Homo sapiens: one gene and its partner. The protein of the gene in region 1 interacts with the protein of each later gene in a pairwise test. Each region holds a gene or a part of one and is shown on either strand. Other genes may lie near its edges.

Region 1 (3,806 bases):
AGGCATCTGGGCCAGACTTTGACACTGAGGCCATGGAATGGGTGGGGCTCTGAGAACAGACCAAAGTGATCATGGGCTGAAGGCTATGTCCACAGATCCAAGGCGGGATAGGCTGTGCTGGGCAGTGATGTCAGCCAGGCTCCCCAGCGGGACTGGGGGTGTCAGGGGCAGCTCTGTCCCAGGTGGCAGACACTGGTTTCCCCTCCTGCTCTCACAACCGGCCTGTTACCAGGTGTTGTCTGAGCTGTGGTGAGGCTTCCCTGGTGACATTCAGGAGCAGGGAGCCTGTGAGTAAGGGTGTATGCATCTGCCCTGACTGCCTGGCCCTGTGGTCAAGGATGGGGGAAGGCAGCTCTGCCTGCAGCTCCACCCCATTTATAAAGCACTGTGGTGCCTTCTGCTGGGGCATGTGCTGAGTGGTGCCTCGCAGGCACTGCCCTCGGGAAGTTCACAGGCTTATGTGGAAGCTGGTGGGAATGGGCCAAGAAGAGAGGTGTCAGGAGCCAGGTATTGGGCAGGTCCCAGGTCTCTGAGCCTCAGTTTCTTCATCTGTAGGAGGGTGGTGACCCTGCCCTGCTCAGCTTACCAGGTACAGATGTAAGTTTTCAGTGCAGAGGAAAAGCAGAGAACTTCCCCTCAGATGGCCATACCCCCTTGTCGCTGTACCCAACTCTCCGGTCCTACTTTGTAGCTCTCAGGTGTCACATGTGGATCCTGCCCTACCATCCCCCTTCCCTGTCTAGAAACGAGGCCTGCTGAGCTTGGAGCCATCCCACTCCCTGCTCTCAAGCCGTCTGCTCCTGGGTTAGCCTGTGGCTGGCCTGGCCTGATTCTACATAGATGTGGGTGTTTCTCCACTGCTGGGGCAGCAGTTGTCCATTCTGGGGCCTGGGTCAGCTCTCAGCTGTGGCCGTTGTGCCTGTGCTTCCCCAGGTCCTGGTGGTGACTCCAACCCTGCCCTCACATATCCCAAGAGCAGGCTGACTGCCTTCCCCATTCCCACCTTTCCAGTAACTGCTGCAAGAACGGACAGACACTGCTGCAGAGAACTTGCCACGGTGTTTCATGCTGTGGCTGGTGGTTCCAGGCTGCACGCTCCATTCTAGGAAAGGGTGAGGCTTCCTGATCATCAGTCTTAACAGGGGACTGTCCTATGGGTACCTGTATACGCTGCCGGGAGTGGGGCAGAGTGGGGTTAGAGTAGTGCCTGCTGCCCATTGGTTTGTGCGGTCCTTTAAGGCTGTAAGTCTGTGTGCGTGTCTGGTTTTTTCCTCCTCCTATCAGTAATCAGTCTTGTATAACCAGGCTGGCCCTGCTTCCTGCCTAGGGGCTATCGGTGTACCATCTGGAGTTGCAAATGGGGTGATAGGGCGTCAGCGGCCTTCCCACACCCAAGCACTTCCTGACACCCAGCCCCTCATCTCTAGCCAACCTCTGGCTCCCCTAGGGATCCTGGGGCTCAGGCCTCACGCTCCAGCATCCGGGGGCTTTGCCCTTCTGGTGTTGCTCTTCTTTGCAGGTGCCTTGGAACAGGGGTGCAACAGAGTTCAGAAAGTGCCATCTGTTGCATGGATACCCTGCTGCCACCCTCGTCCACCTTTCTGGGGCAGAACAGTTGGATGGGTCTTTATTTAAGAGGACAAAAGGGAGAGAGAATGCATAGAGGCTGGGTCTGGTGCTCACGCCTGTAATCCCAACACTTTGGGAGGCCAAGGCAGGTGGATCCCTTGAGGTCAGGAGGTCAAGACTAGCCTGGCCAACATGGTGAAACCCCGTCTCTACTAAAAATACAAAAAAAAAAAAATTAGCTGGGCATGGCGGGAGATGCCTGTAATCCCAGCTACTCGGGAGGCTGAGGCAGGATAATCACTTGAACCCAGGAGGCGGAGGTTGCAGTGAGCCAAGATCACACCACTGCACTCTAGCCTGGGTGACAGAGGGAGACTGTCTCAAAAAAAAAAATTTGCTTAGAATTTGTCTGTGTGACCCTGGGCAAGTCATTTCCCCTCCTTGGGACTCAGTTCCTTGCCTGTGAACGGGGACAGTGCTTCTCCCTTACAGAGCTGTTGTGAGAATTAAAGTAGAAAATGTACCTATGGTGGTTGTTGGTAGTGACCAGTTCCCCCAACCCTGACTCCCCTGCAGGATGGGGCCTGGGCCCGGGAATGGGGGATGGGCTGGCAGAGGATGACTGTCCCAGAGAGGAGTCTTCTCGGCAGATGTGGAGACCTAGCTGAGTCAGAGGCCAGGATCTAAGTTTGAGGGTGTTCCTTACACCCTGCAGCCATGAGTCTTTGGCTGAGTCAAATGGCCTTTCTGAGCTCAGTTCCTTATCAGTAAAGCCTGGACAGTGGTCCAGGACGCTGGACACTGTGTGAGTGTTAGGACACAGGACACTGTGTGAGTGCAGGTGGGGACCCATGGAGCACTCTGCTGGGGAGCAATTCATGGGGAGCACCCCTCCAGAGAGGGATGATTTGCACAGGGCCCTCAGCCCAGTCCCTTGCAGGCTGGACCTTGGAGAGTGAGGCCCTGAGGCGAGACATGGGCACCTGGCTCCTGGCCTGCATCTGCATCTGCACCTGTGTCTGCTTGGGAGTCTCTGTCACAGGGGAAGGACAAGGTGAGGGCTGGGCACTAATGTCTGTATGAGGTGGGTGGAGAACTAGGGCATGTTTGGGGGACTGGGTTGTCCGATGTCAAGCCTCTAGGGAAAGGTTTGGCCCAAACTGTGCTGGGGCATGTCCTCTAGGGGTCAGCCTGGACCTCAGTCTCTAGTCTCCCTACTTTTACCTCCCTACCTTCATTCCCTGGACCGACTGTAGTCTCCCTTCCTTCACTCTCTTGACGCCTCTCCAGATCTGACTTGCCCGTGTACCACAGGTCAGAGCCCATCACTTCCCAGGCCTCCCAGTGCTTCCCTGGACAGATTCTGGGATCATTTACTGGTGACTGCCCTGCTAGGGTGTCAGCTGTCAGATCCTCCCCAACCCCCGAGCTCAGCTCTGGCCTGAAGTACTTACCGTGGGCTCCTGATGGTCACTGTCTCCAGGGCCAAGGTCTAGAACCTTCACCTGCCTCACCAACAACATTCTCAGGATCGATTGCCACTGGTCTGCCCCAGAGCTGGGACAGGGCTCCAGCCCCTGGCTCCTCTTCACCAGGTGAGCATGGAGGGCCATGCCCACCTGGACAGGGATGAGGGTGAGTTCCCCAGGATTGAAGCAGCTATGCCAGGACAGTGTAGCAGCCCCGTGGTGCTGACAAATGCCCTTTCCAGCAACCAGGCTCCTGGCGGCACACATAAGTGCATCTTGCGGGGCAGTGAGTGCACCGTCGTGCTGCCACCTGAGGCAGTGCTCGTGCCATCTGACAATTTCACCATCACTTTCCACCACTGCATGTCTGGGAGGGAGCAGGTCAGCCTGGTGGACCCGGAGTACCTGCCCCGGAGACACGGTGAGCAGCAGCTATAGGTCTGGGGCGGGGCCGCTTGGCAAGAACATCCTGGCTGCTTGGGGGTTTGGAGCAGGGCCTTGCAGCCTGTGAGTGGCCCAGTGAGTGTTCTCAGTCCCAGCCGAGTGAGATCCAGGGCTGGGGGCAGGCTTGGCCCTTGGGAGGGGAGGGCCCATATGGTTACTGCAGGGGCAGGGTTTTGGCAGGAAATAAACATGCACGGCTGCTAGTTGGGGCAGGGGCTGGCACTTGAGTCATGTGAAATGCACTTCAGTCATACCAGGAAGGACTCCAATAAGATGCTGGGAAAAGCTTCCAGCAGCAGACTGTGAAGGAAAGGGAAAGCAAGA
Region 2 (4,575 bases), on another chromosome or scaffold:
AAAAATAGTAAAAGTGGTCTTATTATCAGTATTCATTTTTTTTAACCAGTATTTAAAAAATAGCAACCACGAAGTCTGGGGCCCACTGAACCGGAATAGTTCTATCACTCTTATCAGAAACCCCAGAGAACCTTGATTCTCTAACTTTGTTAAAAATTTGCAAGCCAACTTTCAATTACTTTTTTTTTTCAATTTTTAATTTTTGCCAGTTCAGTTCTCTGCCCCTCTATCTTTGTGAAACAGAGTCAAGGGAGGTTAAGAAAAAGCAAGTGTTTCCATATCACATCTTCTTCCTGCTACAAGCCAGGCTAACAGAACCAGAACTGTTTCTCTCTTCTCCAGCTTCCAATTCTCCTTCAAATTAAACTGAGACCCTCCCCAAACTATTGCTCTTTGCAAAATTAAATACTCCAGTGTCTGAACAAAGCTAAACTAAAAAGGACACTTTAAACGAATAACCTTTAAAAACAAACTAAGTCAGCCTTCAAAATAATCCCCTTTGGCCACACAGGACAGCCCAGGGGACAGGTGCAGGGCATGCCTTCCTAGAGGCTGTCTCCTCCTCCATGAATCTGACCTTTTCCAGCTGGTAGCTCTGGCACCTCACAAATCAGTTGTCAGTAGGCCGAATGCCTGCTTTCCCATCTGCACTTTCCAAATGGCTCCTGATGCCAACGGCTGAGATATGACCTGGCTCTCTGATGAGAACATGCTTCCCAAGTGACATGCCAGGTTTCCTGGAAGCATTTCTAAATGCATTCTCTGAGCTCCCTCCCTCACCTCCCAGTCACGGTTCATTCTTCCTTCCCTGCACTTCCTAATGCCACCTCCTGATCCTATTCCTCCAACGTCATGTCCCTTCAGTCCCAAATCCTTACCCACTTTCATCAACCATTGACCCTTGTCCTGCCTTACATCCCAACTTCAAATCCAAAGGGCATAGTTCTGGCTAGGTGTGGTGGCTCACGTCTGTAATCCCAGCACTTTGGGAGGCGGAGGTGGGTGGATCACCTGAGGTACGGAGTTCGAGACCAGCCTGGCCAACATGATGAAACCCCATCTCTACTAAAAATACAAAACTTAGCAGGGCATGGTGGCAAATGCCTGTATTCCCAGCAACTCGGGAGGCTGAAGCAAGTGAATTGCTTGAACCCAGGAAGCAGAGGTTGCAGTGAGCCGAGATCACACCATTGCACTCCAGCCTGGGCAACAGAGCAAGACTCTGTCTCAAAAACAAACAAACAAATAAACAAAAAAGCAAAGAGCATAGTTACAACATTTTGGAGCTGGTTCAAAGTGATCTTTCTGAGGCCTACCTGCAGGCAGGTCGGTCATGGCCTCTTCCCTTGCCTTCTTCAGCTTCTCCCTGACCCAGGGAAACTCCTGTAGGGAATCTAGGAATGTATCAAATGCTTTAGGGCCCCTGGAAGGTAGGATATCCAGCAGGAGCATTGTTTTCCGGAGGCCTGTGGTTTGAGCATTGATTTCTTGAATATGGTTTTCCGTCAAGATTCCTTCCTGGTAGAGGTACTGAAGAACCAGTCCCTCCACCAATACCTCTGCACCCAGCTCCAGGCGAAGTGAGCGGAGTACTTGTTTGTCTCTGGCCTCCATTTCTCCCTGGAAAGAGCCAAAATCACAGCTCAAATTACAGACATGTTGATGTGGCCCTAAAGACAGTGTCACTGCAATGTAAGTTCCTTCAGGTCAAGCACATCTTTAAACCATAGCAGACTGCCAGGTCATGGTATTTAATTCACTGATTAAGCCAAGCCAGGTTAATTTTGAATGTTTCCTAACATAATGAACAACAATGAAGATGAATCATCTTTTCTGTTTCTGCTTTTCACACAATGGGGTCCCAGCTCAATTCCTCGTTCAATAAAGAAATTTGGAAAAAGAAAAAAAAAAAGTGGGTCAGAGACCCTTCTGAACAAGCAATTTTTATCTGAAGATTACAGAGCAGCACTAATTTTAACACGCTGGAGAAGAAATGGTGGTTTTATTTTCACATTGCCCTCATCAGACCTGCACCACCACCACCAAGGCAGAAACTGCCAAGGTGGACGCAGGTCCCCTTTTTTTGATCACAAGTATTTGCAAAACCTGATCAGTAATAGGAGTGCAGGACAGAAATCAGCAGGTTCAGAATTTAAGGCTCTTTTCGCTAAAAGTCCTCTACACGATCACCTTTAAGAAAATTGTTGTTTGTGCCCAGTCTACAATAAACTTTACACAATATACAGTCACAGACTCCATTCCTTCCCACTAAGAATTCCGAATCTCCAGCACAACACTGTCGTGGCCGCACATGCATGGGACATTTTATGGGATTTTTTTCTTTCAAAAAAAGCACACACCCCAGCACTGGTCAGTAGCCAGGCACGATTTGAAGGTGCAGTTCCACCACCCCTGCACCAGTGTGCTGTGGCTTGGTTGTGTGTAAGGCAGTGAAGGTTAAGTGACCGGGAAGGCAGGCAGGGATGACAGATGGGGCTTCAGACACACCCGGGCAGTACGACCACGGCTAGGCGACACCCGATCCCACACTCCCCCTCGCAACCCTGTAAAGTTCAGGAGGTGACAGGTGAGGAGGGGAGGTGTTCACGTTTGGCCGTGAGCGCCCATTGGGAACTATTTAAAAAGGCTCTGCTTCGGCCGCTGAAACCCTTGTATCAAACAGGAAGACTACGGGCGGTTTCTGCGGCAACTTGACCCGCTAAAGAGGGAGTGCTGGGAATGAACTAAAGAGCGGACCAAGGGGAGAGCGGGCCTCCGGCACTGCCGCAGCCACCCAGCCTTGGCCCGGATCGGAAATGCGGAGCAAGTTAGCGGGGCGGGGAAGCCCCCGCAGGGCCCAGGTCGCAGACGCTACAATGCAGGACTTTCAAAGAAAGATGGATTCCTGTTACTTACGTCTGCAACCACGTATCTTTGGGGCGGGGGAGAAAAACTGCAACCGGAATCCTGACTGTTAGGGAACCTGCCCCATAAGCACCATCTTTGTTAATGGCGAAAACCCTAAACAGGAAGTGTTGACACCATCTTTGTTGAGGGCAAGTACAGGAAGTGCTGTCGCCATTTTTATTGAGCGTTCAAGGGTCGGATCGAAGCTCTTCCCGCCATGCTTACTGTGGGTAAACAATTCAATAGCGGGGAGATGGACAACCGTAGTGTCACTTAAAGGGTATCTAAGTAATGGAGTAATTGAATCATTGCATTTTAACACAGTAACTCCATCAGGGCCTCGCACACAATTGACCTAACAGAGAGGCAGGTCAAAAGCCACCCTAGTAGAGAAGCCTTCTCTGACCTATCTGATTAAAACGGCAAGACAGCTGCGCTCATTTCCTGCACTCCCCATTAACCAGCTTTATTTTTTACGCATCACCATCTTATTAAAACTTTTCACTTATTCATTTGTTTATCCTTCTGCTTCCCTCCATTAAAATGCAAGGTCATTTATTTATATCAAGGGTTCCTGCCCGCAAAGAGTTTACAAATCTGTCAGTCAGGATTTCATTGCAGCACTCAGCTAGTTACTCCTAGTCAGAAAGGGATTCGTTAGGGGGAATTGGGGACATTCGAAATCATTGGAAAGGCTGGAGAAGGGCTGAGCTGAACATCCATGGATGACTACCTAGATAAGATTGCTGATTGTGGCTGCTGCCCACAATCAGGAAGATGGCGTCAGGAAGTTGCCATGCCTGGTCCCCAACCTCCTCTCAACACCGACAGAACAATTAACAGGACACTGGAACAGTGCTGCAAAAAACGGTGGTCTCCACGGCTGCATTTGCCAGCAGCAAGAAAACAGCACCTGCAAATCTTGCTTTGCTGCGTGCCATTGGTGAGACCAATCTGACATGCAGAATATTAGCAGCAAGGATGTCTAGAGCATGTAGTTGGTAGCTTTCCAGCTTGTGAAACACAAAAAGGTATAGTAAATGAGGGAAGGCCTGACACTTAAAGCCAATCTACTGCATCCACCACATTTTCAATGTGGAAAGCAAGAAAAAATGCATGACCCAAATACAGAGAAACACAGCAATGCCAAATTGGGTGTCCTTCCTCACATTCCTTTGTGAAGCGAGGCAGGCGATCAATAAATACATTCATTGATTCATTTTTAAATCAATTGGATGATACATACAGAAAGTCATATGCTTACTAAAAATCAGTTGACAGTACAGGGGGAAAAAACTCCTAAAATATTATTTCTGCAAAGGTTTTCACAGCCAAACCCTTTGGTGGAAAATGAAAATATCTTTGTTAAGCAAATCAATGGAGAACAGTTCTGAACCTCCCTCCTCAAAACCTTCTAAAAATTGTATTCAATTTACAGCATTACTATGCCAGTTACCATTTTACTACACCGTTAATGACAGTATTTTTACCTATGTGGCAAGTATTATTATTATTACAGTCATGCATTGCATAACAATATTTGGGTCAATGACAGACTGCATATATGATGGTGGTCAGAGCAATAGGCTATGCTATATGGCCTAAGTATGTAGTAGGCTATACCATCTAGGTTTGCATAAGTACATCCTATTTTGTTTGCACAATGAC

What was found.
Region 2: the proteins of IL9R (region 1) and CRADD interact in a two-hybrid assay, tested with the Homo sapiens proteins (one large-scale study listed by BioGRID and IntAct).

What each region holds. Positions count from the first base shown.
Region 1 is NC_000023.11:156,000,397-156,004,202, forward strand, and holds part of IL9R (interleukin-9 receptor isoform 1 precursor), read left to right. Parts: intron 1-933; exon of another isoform or gene 934-1,011; coding exon of another isoform or gene 1,012-1,112; exon of another isoform or gene 1,113-2,472; coding exon of another isoform or gene 2,473-2,509; coding exon 2,510-2,623; intron 2,624-3,052; coding exon 3,053-3,164; intron 3,165-3,280; coding exon 3,281-3,459; intron 3,460-3,806.
Region 2 is NC_000012.12:93,675,814-93,680,388, reverse strand, and holds the start of CRADD (death domain-containing protein CRADD), read right to left. Parts: upstream 3,015-4,575; 5' UTR 2,917-3,014; intron 2,819-2,916; exon of another isoform or gene 2,361-2,818; intron 1,621-2,360; 5' UTR 1,615-1,620; coding exon 1,317-1,614; intron 1-1,316. UniProt on the Homo sapiens protein: Adapter protein that associates with PIDD1 and the caspase CASP2 to form the PIDDosome, a complex that activates CASP2 and triggers apoptosis.